2 linked regions of the Homo sapiens genome follow. The protein of the gene in region 2 interacts with the protein of the main gene of each other region in a pairwise test. Each region holds a gene or a part of one and is shown on either strand. Other genes may lie near its edges.

What was found. The genes of interacting proteins can lie anywhere in the genome.
Region 1: the proteins of ULBP3 (region 2) and KLRK1 interact in binary tests that used the Homo sapiens proteins (3 or more experiments, as listed by UniProt).

What each region holds. Positions count from the first base shown.
Region 1 is NC_000012.12:10,372,944-10,380,565, reverse strand, and holds part of KLRK1 (NKG2-D type II integral membrane protein), read left to right. Parts: intron 1-729; exon of another isoform or gene 730-773; coding exon 774-866; intron 867-1,083; coding exon 1,084-1,119; intron 1,120-1,860; coding exon 1,861-2,012; intron 2,013-2,330; coding exon 2,331-2,434; intron 2,435-6,429; exon of another isoform or gene 6,430-6,531; intron 6,532-7,334; coding exon 7,335-7,452; 3' UTR 7,453-7,622. Other genes in the region: KLRC4-KLRK1 (NKG2-D type II integral membrane protein), read left to right, coding at 774-866, 1,084-1,119, 1,861-2,012, 2,331-2,434, 7,335-7,452.
Region 2 is NC_000006.12:150,065,647-150,073,624, reverse strand, and holds the start of ULBP3 (UL16-binding protein 3 precursor), read left to right. Parts: upstream 1-4,503; 5' UTR 4,504-4,558; coding exon 4,559-4,646; intron 4,647-7,462; coding exon 7,463-7,726; intron 7,727-7,951; coding exon 7,952-7,978.

The sequences.
Region 1 (7,622 bases), on a different chromosome or scaffold from region 2:
ATCTGTGCCTCAGAGAGACTTGGTCACTTTCTTGCTGAATTCCAGCCTTCTCCCTTCAACACTCTATTCAATGTGTGGTTATCTACTTGTTGTTTTGGTCCTTTGTGGAAGTGAGTGCTGGGTGCCTGTAGTTAGCCATCTTGATGATGCTTCCTCCTTCTTTATGTTTATTATTGTATCTGCATAAAAATAATAAATCACGGCCGGGTGCGGTGGCTCACGCCTGTAATCCCAGCACTTTGGGAGGCCGAGGCGGGCGGATCACGAGGTCAGGAGATCGAGACCGTCCTGGCTAACACGGTGAAACCCTATCTCTACTAAAAATACAGAACATTAGCTGGGAGTGGTGGCGGGCACCTGTAGTCCCAGCTACTCGGGAGGGTGAGGCAGGAGAATGGCGTGAACCCAGGAGGTGGAGCTTGCAGTGAGCCGAGATCGCGCCACTGCACTCCAGCCTGGGCGACAGAGCGAGACTCCGTCTCAAAAAAAAAAAAAAAAAAAAAAAACAATAACAACAAAAAATCATAAGCATAATTTACTCTAGGGATGACTGGGGAACTTGTAGAGAAGTATAGAAGGAAATATTACATTGTTGTACTCTAGTTTTTGATCATTTGCGAGGTATTTATGTTCTGTTCTGGAAAAAATTATTAAGGCAGAAAAAGGATCAATACCACCTTCTCATTTAAAAAACTCTAATATTTATATTAAATACAAAGATACCCAAACCTTTTATGCTTCTTTCTCTGATCTGTGTCTTTTTTCTTTGACAGCATCTCCATTTTTTTTCTGCTGCTTCATCGCTGTAGCCATGGGAATCCGTTTCATTATTATGGTAACAATATGGAGTGCTGTATTCCTAAACTGTAAGTGACAACAGAGAAGTAGATTGCAACATTGTCAATTTAACAATGCTAATGTATTATTTTTGTTAGTATTCATAAACACAGACACATAAACTAGAAATATTAAATGTATCTTTGTCACATTTTTGCTATTAGTCCAGAAATTTGTAAACTATATTTGCTTATACTATAAGTTACTAACAATACAAACTTTTAATACTTATGGTTATTTTAATAGCATTATTCAACCAAGAAGTTCAAATTCCCTTGACCGGTAAGTGAATTTTTAAAATATTTTAGATCATATATTATATGTATCTACCTACATTATTGTGTAGACATGTATTCCATGATTAAAAAAGGAAAAAGTAATTAATTCTAGTCTGTAATACACTATGGCTTCTGTTTTCCTTTTAACAATGAGGGAATACTTGTAAAAAGTAGAGGCTACTTAGGTTTGACATCATCTTTCTCTCTCTCTCTCTCTTTTTTTTTTTTTTTTTTTTGAGATGGGGTCTCACTCTGTCACCCAGGCTGGAGTGCAGTGGGGTGATCTCAGCACAATGCAACCTTCGCCTCCCAGTTTCAAGCAATTCTCATGCCTCAGCCTCCCAAGTACCTGGGACTGCAACCTCTACCTCCTAGGTTCAAGCAATTCTCCTGCCTCAGCTTCCAAGTAGCTGGGACTGCAGGCGTGAGCCACCACACCCGGCTAATTTTTGTATTTTTAGTAGAGGCAGGGTTTCACCATGTTGGCCAGGCTGGTATCAAACTTCTAACCTCAAGTGAGTCACCTGCCTTGGCCTCCCAAAGTGCTAGGATTACAGGCATGAGACACCACACCCAGCCTGGCTTCTCTCTATGAATATGTAGAGATATGCCTTTGGTTATGACTGTAATAATTTAATAATCTGAAATTTTAGAGTTGGAGTGAAAAAGGCATTTAATTTGTCTAGACAAAATCTGCTATAATGGTTCAGATGTGTAGAATTAATAATATATTCTCCTTTTCCAGAAAGTTACTGTGGCCCATGTCCTAAAAACTGGATATGTTACAAAAATAACTGCTACCAATTTTTTGATGAGAGTAAAAACTGGTATGAGAGCCAGGCTTCTTGTATGTCTCAAAATGCCAGCCTTCTGAAAGTATACAGCAAAGAGGACCAGGTTGAGTATTTATTTTAATTTCCCATCCTGTATTTAATCCTAACATCTGAGACAACTCACTGGAATATGAACCTAGAACATATAAGGGACACTGTGACTTGGTTATTCTAATACCAACCCTAAATCTTTCTTCATTGAAAATAACAAAGCACAGAAATTGTAGGTATCATGTATGTGTGCTCGGATGAGAATTATGCCAGTTAGTGGACAGAATGCATTTTTTTACAAGTGTGAGAACAGATGAAATGGTTATGGTCTTGCGTTTACTAAAATTATCAACACTGATTTTACTTATAGTTTATTTGTGGTTTCAAACAGGATTTACTTAAACTGGTGAAGTCATATCATTGGATGGGACTAGTACACATTCCAACAAATGGATCTTGGCAGTGGGAAGATGGCTCCATTCTCTCACCCAACCTGTAAGTCTCTGACCCAATGAGTCTCTTCTTTTTAATTTTTTTCCTAAGTTTTCCCTGTAATAATTCTAATCACTCATCTCACATAATCCCAGGACATTTGCACATTCTAATAGATTTAGTAAAAAGTGCTTAGGCCCTAAATTTGGGAGAAAGTTGTATTAGTTGTAGAGCAGCCAACACAAATACTAGTAAGTAATACAAATTGTTTACTATATGGTAAGTACTGTGGAAGGCAGGTCTAATATGTTCGTTTTACAGATAAAGAGACAGAAACAGAGAGGTTAAATATTACATACATTTCTTTTTGAATTTATTACCAGACATGTTGAGATATAATTAACATATAATAAATTGCACATATATAAAGTATACAATTTGATAAGTCTCGAGAACTATATGAGCCCATGAAAACATAAAGAACATCAAGATAGTTAACATATAAATTACCTGGAAAACATTCTCTAAGCATGCACCTTTGTGATTTCTCCTCTGTGTCCCTATGTCCTTACCTCTTTCTCTTTCCAGTCAATCAGTTTTCTGTCACTTTAGATTAGTTTGCAATTCATAGAATTTAATATAAATGAAGTCCTACAATATATATCATTTGCAATGTCTTATTTTCACTTAGAAAAGTTATCTTGAGATTCAGCCATCTCATTGCATGAGTAAAGAGTTAATTTCCTTTTATCTCTTCATTTATTGATGTATATTTAGGTAATTCCCAGTTATTGATCATTACAAATAATGCTACTTGCTAATAATATTTGTGTACAAGTATTTGTATCATATTAACGAAATCTTTCTTTCCCTTAACATAAACACCTAGAAACAAAATGGCTGAATCATATAAGTATATACTTAACTTTTTTTAAAGTGCCACACTGTTATCCAAAGTGGTGATGATATTTTACAAATTTTACTTTCTACCTAGCAGTATGTAAGAGAAAATCTGACAGAGAAGTTGCTTCACATCCTAGTCAACACTTGTTTTGATCAGCCTCTTAAATTTTATACTGGCTGGGTGCAGTGGTTTATGCCTATAATCCCAGCACTTTGGGAGGCCGAGGCAGGCAGATCACTTGAGGTCATGAGTTCAAGACCAACCTGGCCAATGCAGTGAAACCCTGTCTCTACTAAAAATACAAAAATTAGCTGGACGGGGTGGCAGGTGTCTGTAATCCCAGCTACTCGGGAGGCTGAGGCAGGGGAATGGCTTGAACCCGGGAGACGGAGGTTGCAGTGAGCCGAGATTGCGCCGCTGCACTCCAGCCTGAGTGACAGAGCAAGACCCTGTCTCATAAATAAATAAATAAATAAATAAGTAAATTTCAGACACACTAAATGATGTGTTTTGGTATATGAATGTAGTTTTAACTTGCATTTTACTAATGCAATGATGTTAAGTAGCATTTTTTTGTGTGTGCTTATTTGCCATTTAGGTAAAAATTTTCTTCTCACTGATTTCTGCTTTGATCTTTATTATTTACTGTCTTCTTATAGTAGGTTAAATTTGCTTTTTTAGTTTCTTATATTGAAAGCTGATATGTTGATTTGAAACCTTTTTTTCTAATAAAAGTTATACTATTAATATGTGAGATGATTTGGCAACATCCCGTCATATTTTGAGATACTACTTTTTGTTTCCATTCAGTTAAAAATAGTTTCTAAATTGTCTTTTGCATTCTTTGATTCATTGATTATTTACATGTGTCATTTAGTTTTCAACATTTGTGAATTTTTCAGACATTTTTATTATTGATTTCTAATTTAATTTCATTTTCATTAGCGAATTATTTTGTATAATTTAAAACTTAAATTTATTGACATCAGTGTTATGGACTAGACTATAGTGTGTTTTTAAAAATGTTTTAGGTGTATTTGATCAGAAATGTTTATTCTGCTGTTTTCTATGTATTCTATGTGATAACCTTTGAAATACAAAGTTTTGTAATATGGCTGGTAGAAACAGGCAAAATACTAGACCCTATGTTAGCACTAAGTATTGTTTACCCTAAATCTTTTCAGACAGTTCTTTCTCCATCCTGGAGTAGTTTTTTACATACATGCATTAGTAAGTACTCTGCTGAATATTCAAAGGTGACCTTCTGCATATCTTTACATTTCTTTATTTCTTCAAATCTCTTATCTCCATTTCTGTGTCCGGTGAACTACAGCTTGGTCTTTCTGGATTCTGAAGTGTCCCATGTCTGTAGTTTTTATAGCCTGCTCTTTTACCCACTTGATTGCACAGAGCAATTCAGCACACCCAGACTAAGTGACAACATCTTAATGTTCACTGATCTTATGAATATAGTTGTAATTCTCCAGATTAATGCTAGAGTATTCAAGAAAGGTCATTTCTACCATTTGAAAGATCTGACCTGTCACTACACTGTTCAGTAATTTCTTCATTCAGCTACAACGATCAGGAATGAAACCTAAGCATTTTGTCACTACTGCTTTTCCTTTTTTCAGTCTCATAATATCACAAATATTGCAGAAGTCCTCTAGATTGTAAATATTATAATTCTTTATTTCAAGGGGACTTTAGATATTTGAATTTCCAATTCTTCAATGTAATAAAAAGTCACAACAATATCAATGTTAAAATTAGGTTAATTAGGTGCTTCCTGTCTGTCAGACACAGATTTAAGCACTTAAATGTATCCTTTCATTAAATATACTTAACAATCCTGTATACAGGTGTTATTTTAACCTAATTCTAATGGTATACAACAGAATCTTAACATGTTAAATAACTCACTTAAGTTACAAAATGAATAATTGTTGCAATGAGGACTCAAATATATATATTTCTGGCTCTGGAGCCAGACTTACTATTAAATGACTAAAAAAGTGCTCTTTTCGCTGATTTTTAAATTTACTTTGCTACTTTAATGATTAATTGGCAATGATCAATGCACAACCTTTTACTCTCATGTGTTATTTTCAATTTTCCCCTTGTGTTTATTGTAGCAAGAACTCCCTACCTTCCTTCCTTATTATCTATTTGTAATTTGGAAGCCCCAGTATACCTTAGAATTGATCCAGGATGGCCTCATTTATGTATGGCTTGAGAGTTTTTTTAACAGAAAAAACATTGATTCTCTAAAAAATAAGAGTTTATATCATAGTTTCTCAATATTTTCCTATCTACAAGGACAAAATTTTTTTTCAGAAGCAAAACAACTAGCATACTAACTTTCTGTTTATGCATGTAGTAAATATTGGTTGATTACTGCACAATTTCCAGGAATTATGCAGAGATAACTACAGAGATGAGTAGAATAAAACTCATTTTAGAGCTTCAAACTCTAGTCAGAGATGTAGTTACAAACAAATAATCCAGTGTAGTTAGTTAGGTACTCTGGCAGAAGTGTAATGAAAGTAGTATGAAAAAACAGAGAAAGAAATCGAAGGAACACATGGACAAAGTGATATTAAAAAGAATGAGGCCGGGTGCAGTGGCTCACGCCTGTGATCCCAGCACTTTGGGAGGACCTGAGGTCAGGAGTTCAAGTCCAGCTTGGCCAACATGGTGAAAGCTCATCTTTACTAAAAATACAAAAATTAGCCAGATGTGGTGGCAAGTGCCTGTAACCCCAGCTACTCCTGAGGCTGAGGGGCAGCAGAATTGCTTGAACCCAGGAGGTGGAGGTTGCAGTGAGCCGAGATTGCGCCACTGCACTCCAGCCTGGCTGACAAGAGCAAAACACTGTCAAAAAAAAAAAAAAGAGAGAGAGGAAAGAAAGAAAAAAAGAACGAGACTCTAATGTAGACTGAACCTAGTAAGAGCAGTTATTAAAAAATCTCAGCTGGGGCCGGGTGCAGTGGCTCACACCTGTAATCCCAGCACTTTGGGAGGCCGAGGTGGGTGTATTGCTTTAGGTCAGGAGTTTATAACCAGCCTGGCAACGTAGTGAAACACCATCTCTACTAAAAATAAAAAAATTAGCCGGATGTGGTGGCACATGCCTGTAATCCCAGCTACTTACGAAACTGACACAGGAGAATCACTTGAACTTGGGAGGCAGAGTTTGCAGTGAGCCGAGATTGAACCAGTGCACTCCAGCCTTGGCAGCGGAGCAAGATTCTGTCTAAAAACAAACAAACAACAAAACAAAAACTCTTTAAGAATAGTTTTCTCCCTACAGTGGCCGATTGTTCAGTTACAGAACAGAGATCATTACATCGTCTTTTTAAATAGGGATAGCATCAGACCATAATCTTTTTATTTTTTTGTCAATTTTACATTGAAGTGACATCCTCACTCTTTCTTGAGCTTTCTATTTCCCATCTCTTATGAAAGAAAACAAAGTATCATTATTAATCATATAACTCCAAAAGATTAAAGATGCCAGAGTAAAACACATATATAGATATAGAAATCTCCACATGGAATGCCTAAACATATGCACACACACACACACACACACTTATACACACTTGTGAATGTGTGTATGTATGTATTAGATTTGAAATTTTATTTTCATTTCCTTACCAAGTAAAATTGCATATATCTGAAGAAAATGTTTTATTTTTCCACAAAACACAGTATCAAATTCTAAATTGAACACTGAATTTATTTCTCACTTAAATATTTGTTTTAAAATAAACATTCTAAAGTTTTCATTTAACTTGGGTATACATATGAAGAGATTTTAGACTTCAGAATTGGCTAGTTTCTGATGTATGATAAAAAGAGTGGCGCATTATTTATAATTTTTATTTTTATTATCTGAGTTGGCTATATTTTGTTTATGAATTAGGACCAGGCATGGTCCATAATCTCCTAAAATGGTATTAAGTTCCTGTATTTGAAGTTCAATAGGTATGATTCATTTTTATTTTCCCGCGTTAATAAAATCATGTATGTAATTTGTAATTGTCTCTCCTCTAGACTAACAATAATTGAAATGCAGAAGGGAGACTGTGCACTCTATGCCTCGAGCTTTAAAGGCTATATAGAAAACTGTTCAACTCCAAATACGTACATCTGCATGCAAAGGACTGTGTAAAGATGATCAACCATCTCAATAAAAGCCAGGAACAGAGAAGAGATTACACCAGCGGTAACACTGCCAACTGAGACTAAAGGAAACAAACAAAAACAGGACAAAATGACCAAAGACTGTCAGATTTCTTAGACTCCACAGGACCAAACCATAGAACAATTTCACTGCAAACA
Region 2 (7,978 bases):
CACAGTGGCTCACGCCTGTAATCCCTGCACTTTGGGAGGCCAAGGCAGGAGGATCGCTTGAGCTCAGGAGTTCAAGACCAGCCTGGGCAATATAGGCAGACCCCATCTCTACAGACAAATATAGAAAATTAGCCCAGTGGGTGGCGCATGCTTGTAGTCCTGGCTACTCGGAGGCTGAGGCAGTAAGATGGCCTGAGCCCAGGAGTTAGAGGCTGCAGTGAGCTATGACCACGCGGCTGCACTCCAACCTGGGCAACAGAGGAAGACCCCATATCTTAAAAAAAATAAATAGATAGGCTGGGCACGGTGGCTCATGCCTGTAATCCCAGCACTATGGGAGGCAGAGGTGGGTGGATCACAAGGTCAGGAGATTGAGACCATCCTGGCTAACAAGGTGAAACCTCGTCTCTACTAAAAATACAAAAAAAAAAAAAAAAAAAAAAAAAAAAACTAGCTGGGCGTGGTGGCGGGCGCCTATAGTCCCAGTTACTCGGGAGGCTGAAGCAGGAGAACGGTATGAACCCAGGAGGAGGAGCTTGCATCAAGCCGAGACCGTGCCACTGCACTACAGCCTGGGCGACAGAGAAAAAATAAATAAATAAAAATAAATAAATAATAAATAAAAAAGATGGCAGAGCTAAATCCTAAACAGTAGTAATTACAATAAAAGTGAACTACTAAACTTATCACATAAATCACTGAAACTCCCAGGTTGGATTTTAAAATATCAAATAATATACACTATTTTCAAAAGACAATGTTAAATGTAAAGATTAAAAATAAAACGTGCTGTATCTGCGAAGAAAGGCTACTTTTTAATTTTTTTTGTATTTGTTTCTTTTAGCGACTACAATATGCTTTATTGTTCTTAGAAAGGACTCAGGGTTTGGCTTTAAATCAGGCTGCACGCTTTTCATCAGTCTCGCATCGCTCTCCCCATGCCAAGCTGGCTCTAGCTAGCAATGTCGCATTAAATCCCAGGGCAACCTTCAGGAACTTCCAGAAGCCTCCCCTCTCCTGACCCCCTGCAGTCCAAGACCCCCATATTTGCCCACACCCCTGCTTAGGGTCCAGCCCTAGAACTCACTGCCCCGCCCCAACCTGCCCTGGACCAGCCTGGCAGCAGGAGCAGAGGCTGGAGGCAAACACCCAACTTCGCGCCAGCACCTGTGCCACTGGGGACCAGGAGCCCAGGGTGTGACACACCCAGAGGAAGCAGAGAGCCGCTGCGTGAGTCACCCTGGCCCTCAAGGCTGTCACAGCTCCAGTAGCCCTGCCCCGCCCACTTGCAACTCCAGGCCATGGGGCAGGAAATGCTTGAATCCTTGCTACCTCTCAGACCCCAACCCTTCTTTTCTCCTCTTTCCTCCTGGCCCGGTTATCTTTTCCCATTTCCATTCCCACTTTCAGACTCGTTCTTTCTTTGCTTAAAAGGCAAGTATTTCAGCCATGCGCGGTGGCTCACGCCTGTAATACCAGCACTTTGGGAGGCCAAGGCGGGCGGATCATGAGATCAGGAGTTCGAGACCAGCCTAGCCAACATAGTGAAACCCCATCTCGACTAAAAATACAAAAAACTAGCCGGGCATGGTGGGGATGCCTGTAATCCTAGCCACTCAGGAGGCTGAGGCAGGAAAATCGCTTGAACCCGGGAGGCGGAGGTTGCAGCGAGCCTAGATCACACCACTGCACACCAGCCCGGGCGATAGTATGAGACAACGTCTCAAAAAAAAAAAAAGGCAAGAAAAAGACAAGATTTTCCTGGCCCTGGTGCACTCTAGGCTCAGTCAAACCAACTGAAGACAGCAGTTTGCTGTCCGTCATCACACTATGTTTTCTAGAAGATTCTATCCTGATGAAGCACCCCCCAGACTGGTTGAAAACCAAAGTTACTCTTCCTTGGAAAATCTTTGTGGACACCCAGGTGGAGATTCAAATTTCCAAGTTGGGGCCAGGCGAAGTGGCTCACGCCTGTAATCCCAACACTTTGGGAGGCCGAGGCAGGCAGATCACCTGAGGCCGGGAGTTCGAGATCAGCCTGGCCAACACGGTGAGACCCTGTCTCTATTAAAATTGCAAAAATTAGCCGGGGGTGGTGGCAGGTGCCTCTAATCCCAGCTACTCGGGAGGCTGAGGGAAGAGAATCGCTTGAACCCGGGTGGCAGAGATTGTAGTGAGCTGAGATCGTCCCATTGCACTCCAGTCTGGGCGACAGAGTGAGACTGTCTCAAAAACAAACAAACCGGAAAACAACAAATAAAACCCAACAACTAAAAAAGGCAAAAAAAAAAAAAAATTACCAACCTCGATGCTGCCACCTTCAGGCCGCTGGGGGTTACAACCTCCGCTCCAGCTCCCCTCTGAACCTGTGCTATTCTTCTGAGTCCCATTCACTCCCACAACTGTCTCATTCATTCACTGGTTCACTCAGCTTCCAACCACCCTTACATCACGTCAGGCTCACCAGGTGATGGAGAGAAAAATCATCCTCTGTGGGTCTGAAAAACATGCCTGAGTCTTGATGGTGGGTCTTGTTTTCATTTCCTCCCCATCACAGCGCCCCCAGGGCCATGAAGAGGCCATGGCCTGGGCTCAGAGATCCAGCTCTCCTCAGGGTGGGCCTGGCAGTTGCTGACTTCAGGGAGAGCTGGAGGCCTCACAACTGAAATAGGAGACCTGCCCTGGGTCCTTAGCATGTGCAAGGACAGGGTTCCTTGTAGAATCTGCTCATTTCATCTGTGTTCATAGCATTTGTCATTTTCCACATGCAGACATCCATTCCTAGAAAGCTGAAGAAGCTTGCACAGGAATATTCAGCCACAATATCAGCTGACTTCCATATCTGAATGCATGATCTCTAGATCCCGGCCATTACAATAACATTTGGGCCACTTCTATCCCCATCCTGGGCAGGCCTGAGTCTGTTGGCCAGATGCCTGCAGCAGGGGTGAGTCAGGAGGGCCCAGGTGTGCACAAAAGCCCCTCCTCCTGTCCTGCTTGGGGCTCTCCTGCCAGCCTCCTTCTACCTTCCTCCTGTTCCCCCAGTCACTGGCCCAGGTCACCTGGCCTCGGGGTGGTGCTGCCAGGGCCTTCCCAGAGGCCTCCTCCCAGGACTAACCTGGGCTCCTGCCCCCAGCCCTGTACATGGGAGGCTCTTCTCACACACAGATCCTGGGACCCGCCAAGCTCTGCCCCTCCCAAATCTGAGAACTGCCCACCCTTGTGTGTCTGTTGTCCTCCAAACTACCCTCCACATGGCCCCTCCTGCACAGGGGCTCTAGTGCATCAGGCCAGAATCTTCTAGGCTCCTGTGTCCCTGCTCAGTCACAGAGGTGGCTGCCCTCCCATGACTCTGTCCTGAAGCAGAAACAGGCCCTGGGCTTTGTCCAGGCCTCCTCCTCTTTCCCACAGCCTCAGGACCCTCGGGATTGATGATCACCAGGTGCAGGTGATCCCAACATGAAGACTGTACGGAGTGGGAGGTCTGTGCCGATTTTTCTCATTCAATAGGGAATGGGCTGAGTGGCTGGGGCCTGAGTGGCACTCAAGATCTCTGTCCACTCCTCATCCCAGGCTAAAGCCCTCCCTTGCGGCCAAGGGCCACTGGGCCCATCACCTCCCTCTGGCTTCTGCCCACAGATCTAGATGTTTCCATGGTGACTGAGACGAGGATACACTCGGGTTGCCGCTTTGAGGATGGCTGCAGTCACCATCCAGGGACAGGGCAGAGATGCGCGTGCAGCCATGGATTTGCGTGTAGCTGGCCACAGATGGGTGTACAGCAAAGTGAGCCCCACGCATGCGTAGACCCTCCCTCGGCTTCTGCTCTCCATGGAAACACAATTGATCATTTGATCACTGATCACGGTAGGCCACTAGGGCTTTCTTTTCTTTCTTTTTTTTCCCAGAAGTCATAAAGGGATATAGAATATACTTTATTCTATATATATTCTATATATTCCTCATGCTTTTAGTGGAGAGGCAAAGAAGGTCTGCTCCGGACTGGGAAGCAGCTGCGCCCTGGACGGAGAGGGGCGGGGACTCCTTGGCGCAGGCTGAAGGAGGGCAGGTGTCGCTGGCGGAGGCAGTGACGGGGGGACACAGCCGCCACTGGATATCCCTGTGCAAGTTTCTTCGCTTTCCTGTGCATCAGTGCTTACATTGGGGTAATAATAAATGGTGTGTTAAAAAATTAAATGAGGCGGTCAAGAAGGAATCGTGTCCTGGCCCGCGCGGAGCCTGGGGTGGAGGGTAAGGGTTGGCCAGAGGGGGCCGCTGTCAGGCCACGAGCCCGGGGCGGGACGAAGCGGAGCCACAGCAGGCATAGGCTCCCCGGGTCCCAGCCTGGGGTGGGGCGGGGAAGGGCGGGACGGGGCGGGATAGGGCGGAGCATCCCTCCAAACGTGGGCAGGCGTAGGCTCCCCTGGATCCCGGGGCGGGACGGGACCGGACGGGGCCGAGCACACTCAATCACTAGCTGGCATGCGAGGGCCGAAGTGATTCATACGCTGGTCTCCACATCGACTGCGCCTTGTGTCCCGGGCGCTCCTGGTCTACAATGGCAGCGGCCGCCAGCCCCGCGATCCTTCCGCGCCTCGCGATTCTTCCGTACCTGCTATTCGACTGGTCCGGGACGGGGCGGGCCGGTGAGTTCGGGGATGGAGCCTAAGCGGGGCGGGGGCCAAACCTGGGGGGCTGTGGACTGCAGCGGGTTTCAGAGGAGGGAAGCCTTCTAGAAGGACCGGCGCGATCTCCCCGGACTGCCCCCACGCTCAGTTCCGATTCGCTGCTCTTTTTCGCCAGGTCCGCTTCCTGCGGCTGCTGCTTGCCCTGCAGAGCAGGAGGGGGGTCAAAGAAGGCGAAAAAAGAACCGCAGGAGGGTGGAGGGGCCAAAAAGCTGCAGAGGGCGAGGTGGGGAGGGGATCCCTGGTGCAACCCCGCAGCCCCACTCGTCCTCGGGAAGGAGAAACCAGAGCCCCCGGAACCCGAGCTGGGGTCAAGACATGGGTGACGCCAGCGTCATATAGAATAGTCACTAAGCAGACAGGAGTCAGCAAACCCTTTCTAGAAAGGAAAGGCTGAAGGCACTTTGGTCCTTGCTGGCCGTGAGTTCTCTGTCTCTGTGTCAAGTCCCGTCCCTTTGTAGAGCAACAGCAGGCAATGGCAACCTGCAAGTAAAAGAGAAACCTGAAATGGACCCTGTCCTAGGTTGCAGACTCCAGATGAGGGCACATGCTGTGTCCTGGCAATTGCTGCCCCATCCCCTAGGGTGTCATCTCTAAGTTGTGTAAGTTGAAGAGTCACAAGTGTGTCCTACCCTGCCTGTGGCTTCTGGGAGGTGTGGATGTGATGAATGTGAGGGGGAGTCCCATGGTTCGGGGCCTACTGCTCCCCTCCTTTGTTGCTGAGTAGCATTAACGGTCCCCAGGGGCCATTCAGGGACCCTCCCTGAAGCCTCAGGTGTGACCTGAGGGTGGGGGGGTGTAGCCATGTGGTGTCCTGGGGATCAGAGCCAACTGCTTGTGCAGCTTCTTGGTTCCCTGTGGCCCTGCTCCTGCCCATCCCAGGAGACCCACCTGTGTCTTCTCACTGTGGGGCCTATCTTCCTAATGACCTAAAGGGTGAGGAGCACACCCTGTGATGGGCAGCTCTGAGGCTGTGTGGTCACTGCCCTCCCATAGCTGGAGGCCCATCTCCACAGGGGCCCAGGACCACAGCAGGAGCCACTTTTAAATGAGGGGATTTCACTGCTGTGAGTGGCACAGCTTTGCTTCTGAGCACTAGGGGACCCTGTTGGATTCTGTGGTTGGGAATAGCCATGAAATCCACATAGCACCTTTTCCAACCACACATGCTTCTGGGATCTTAGGGAGTCCAGGGTCAAATAGCTGTAGTGGCAGGTCCAGCCACACCCCTCATCACAGAGTGTGTATGGCTGCATCCCAGCTATAAGAGCAGAGTTGAGTAGTGACAGGGGAGGTCATATGACCAGCACAAACTATAATAGTTACTACATTAACTACAAACACTATCCATTCCCGGTAGAAATCCAGGAAATGTGAAATTACCATTGAATGGGTCTATGAACCCAGCACATCCCTCTAAGCTGGACCTGACACAGAAGTCCATCTGTTACTTTGCCCCAAATGCACCTCATGAGTAACAGGGGAGCAAGTTAATGCTTCACATCCCTGGGAAGAGCTCGGATCACACACTGTGTCCACTAGGAGTGTCTGAGTATTTGCTGTTTCATGGTGTACAGTTACCAGAGTGACTACCCATCTGGCTCTGTGGGGGAGGCTGAAGGAGTCATTGCAATTGCTGTGGGGTTGAAGGAGCCCACCAGGGGCTCTGGGCTCTCCTTCTAGTAATGGACTCTGCGTCTGAGATGTGGCTCAGTTCTCAAAGCTGGGCGAGGGAGCTCAGTTATTTCCCGGGGTGACAACTTTCAGCCTCCTGGTCATCCATCCTTGCATTTTGTCTTTGTGGTAATTATTTAAATCTAGTAGTATCCGGGTGGAGTCTCCATCTCTTTTGGATCTTGGACCCTTTTGTTCTATGAGCCATGGGCATAGCTTTGTAAGACTGAGGACCCCAGCTAGCATTGTGACTTCTCTAATTATTTCCATCATTGCACCCTCCTTCCTGCTGACAGTTGACGGCCTCCACTTGAGATCTCTTATTTCAGGATTTTCCATCCCCATTACTACTGGGAGCCCATTTCAGGAAGAGCATCTCCTACCCCTGACCCTGGGCTTCAGCAACAGGCATCCCTGAGCTTCTTGACAGTCTGCTGCCTTCTCCTGGGGCCTTCTTTATATGCTAGGTAAACAGGAGTCTTCCAGGCTTCCCTTGAGCACAGAGGGTGAACATTGTTCTGGATTTTCATACTGCAGTCACTCTGGCATGGGCACTTCTCTTAGTATTTTGTTCCTTCCTGTACAACCTGCCACGTAAGACCTGGGTTTTCTGTTTCATGCGGTGTGGGTCATTCCTTTTTCCAAGGTTCCAAGGGCAACCTACTAGCAGCTGACCACATTCCAGGGAACTTACCATGTCTTGTTACCCATAATAAATGAACTCATCCTTATCCAATGTTAACTACATCGTACCCACTGCACCACGCTCCAACATCCTCAGGGTGCCCTCCCACACTCTCCCGCCTCTTGCAGTCCACCTGGGCTGCTCCTGCAGATCCTGCCATCTAAGTCCTTCTTCCTGTAGTGGGCCTGCCACCTCCCTGGCAGGGTCCTGTGCTGACGGATGTGAGTATAGGCCTGGGCAGAGTGGGGAGATAGACATGTTAGCGACCCATGGTTCCTCCACAGGCAGAGACCACCGTCCAGGAAGAGAAATCCATGCTCTGCCAGCCCAGCCCTTCAGGAAACCCTCTTGCTGTCACAGTGTTTGGGGTCTTTCCCCCACCCCAACACTCTCTGGTGTTTTTTTTTTTTTTCCTTAGACGCTCACTCTCTCTGGTATAACTTCACCATCATTCATTTGCCCAGACATGGGCAACAGTGGTGTGAGGTCCAGAGCCAGGTGGATCAGAAGAATTTTCTCTCCTATGACTGTGGCAGTGACAAGGTCTTATCTATGGGTCACCTAGAAGAGCAGCTGTATGCCACAGATGCCTGGGGAAAACAACTGGAAATGCTGAGAGAGGTGGGGCAGAGGCTCAGACTGGAACTGGCTGACACTGAGCTGGAGGATTTCACACCCAGTGGTGAGTGAAAGAGACCAAGGACAGAAGGGAGCAGACTGTGGGCTCAGGGGCTGTTCTGTGTGTGGGGAGAAGAAATTAGACATGGGACCTCCATGAAGCCCAGCAGCAAGGGCAGGACTTGGAGGAGACAACAGGACCAGATGAGAATGGTCTCAGCATAGGAGGATGTGGGACAGGGAAGAGAATTTGTAAACACCAGGGCTGATCTCTTTCTGATTGGGGCAGGACCCCTCACGCTGCAGGTCAGGATGT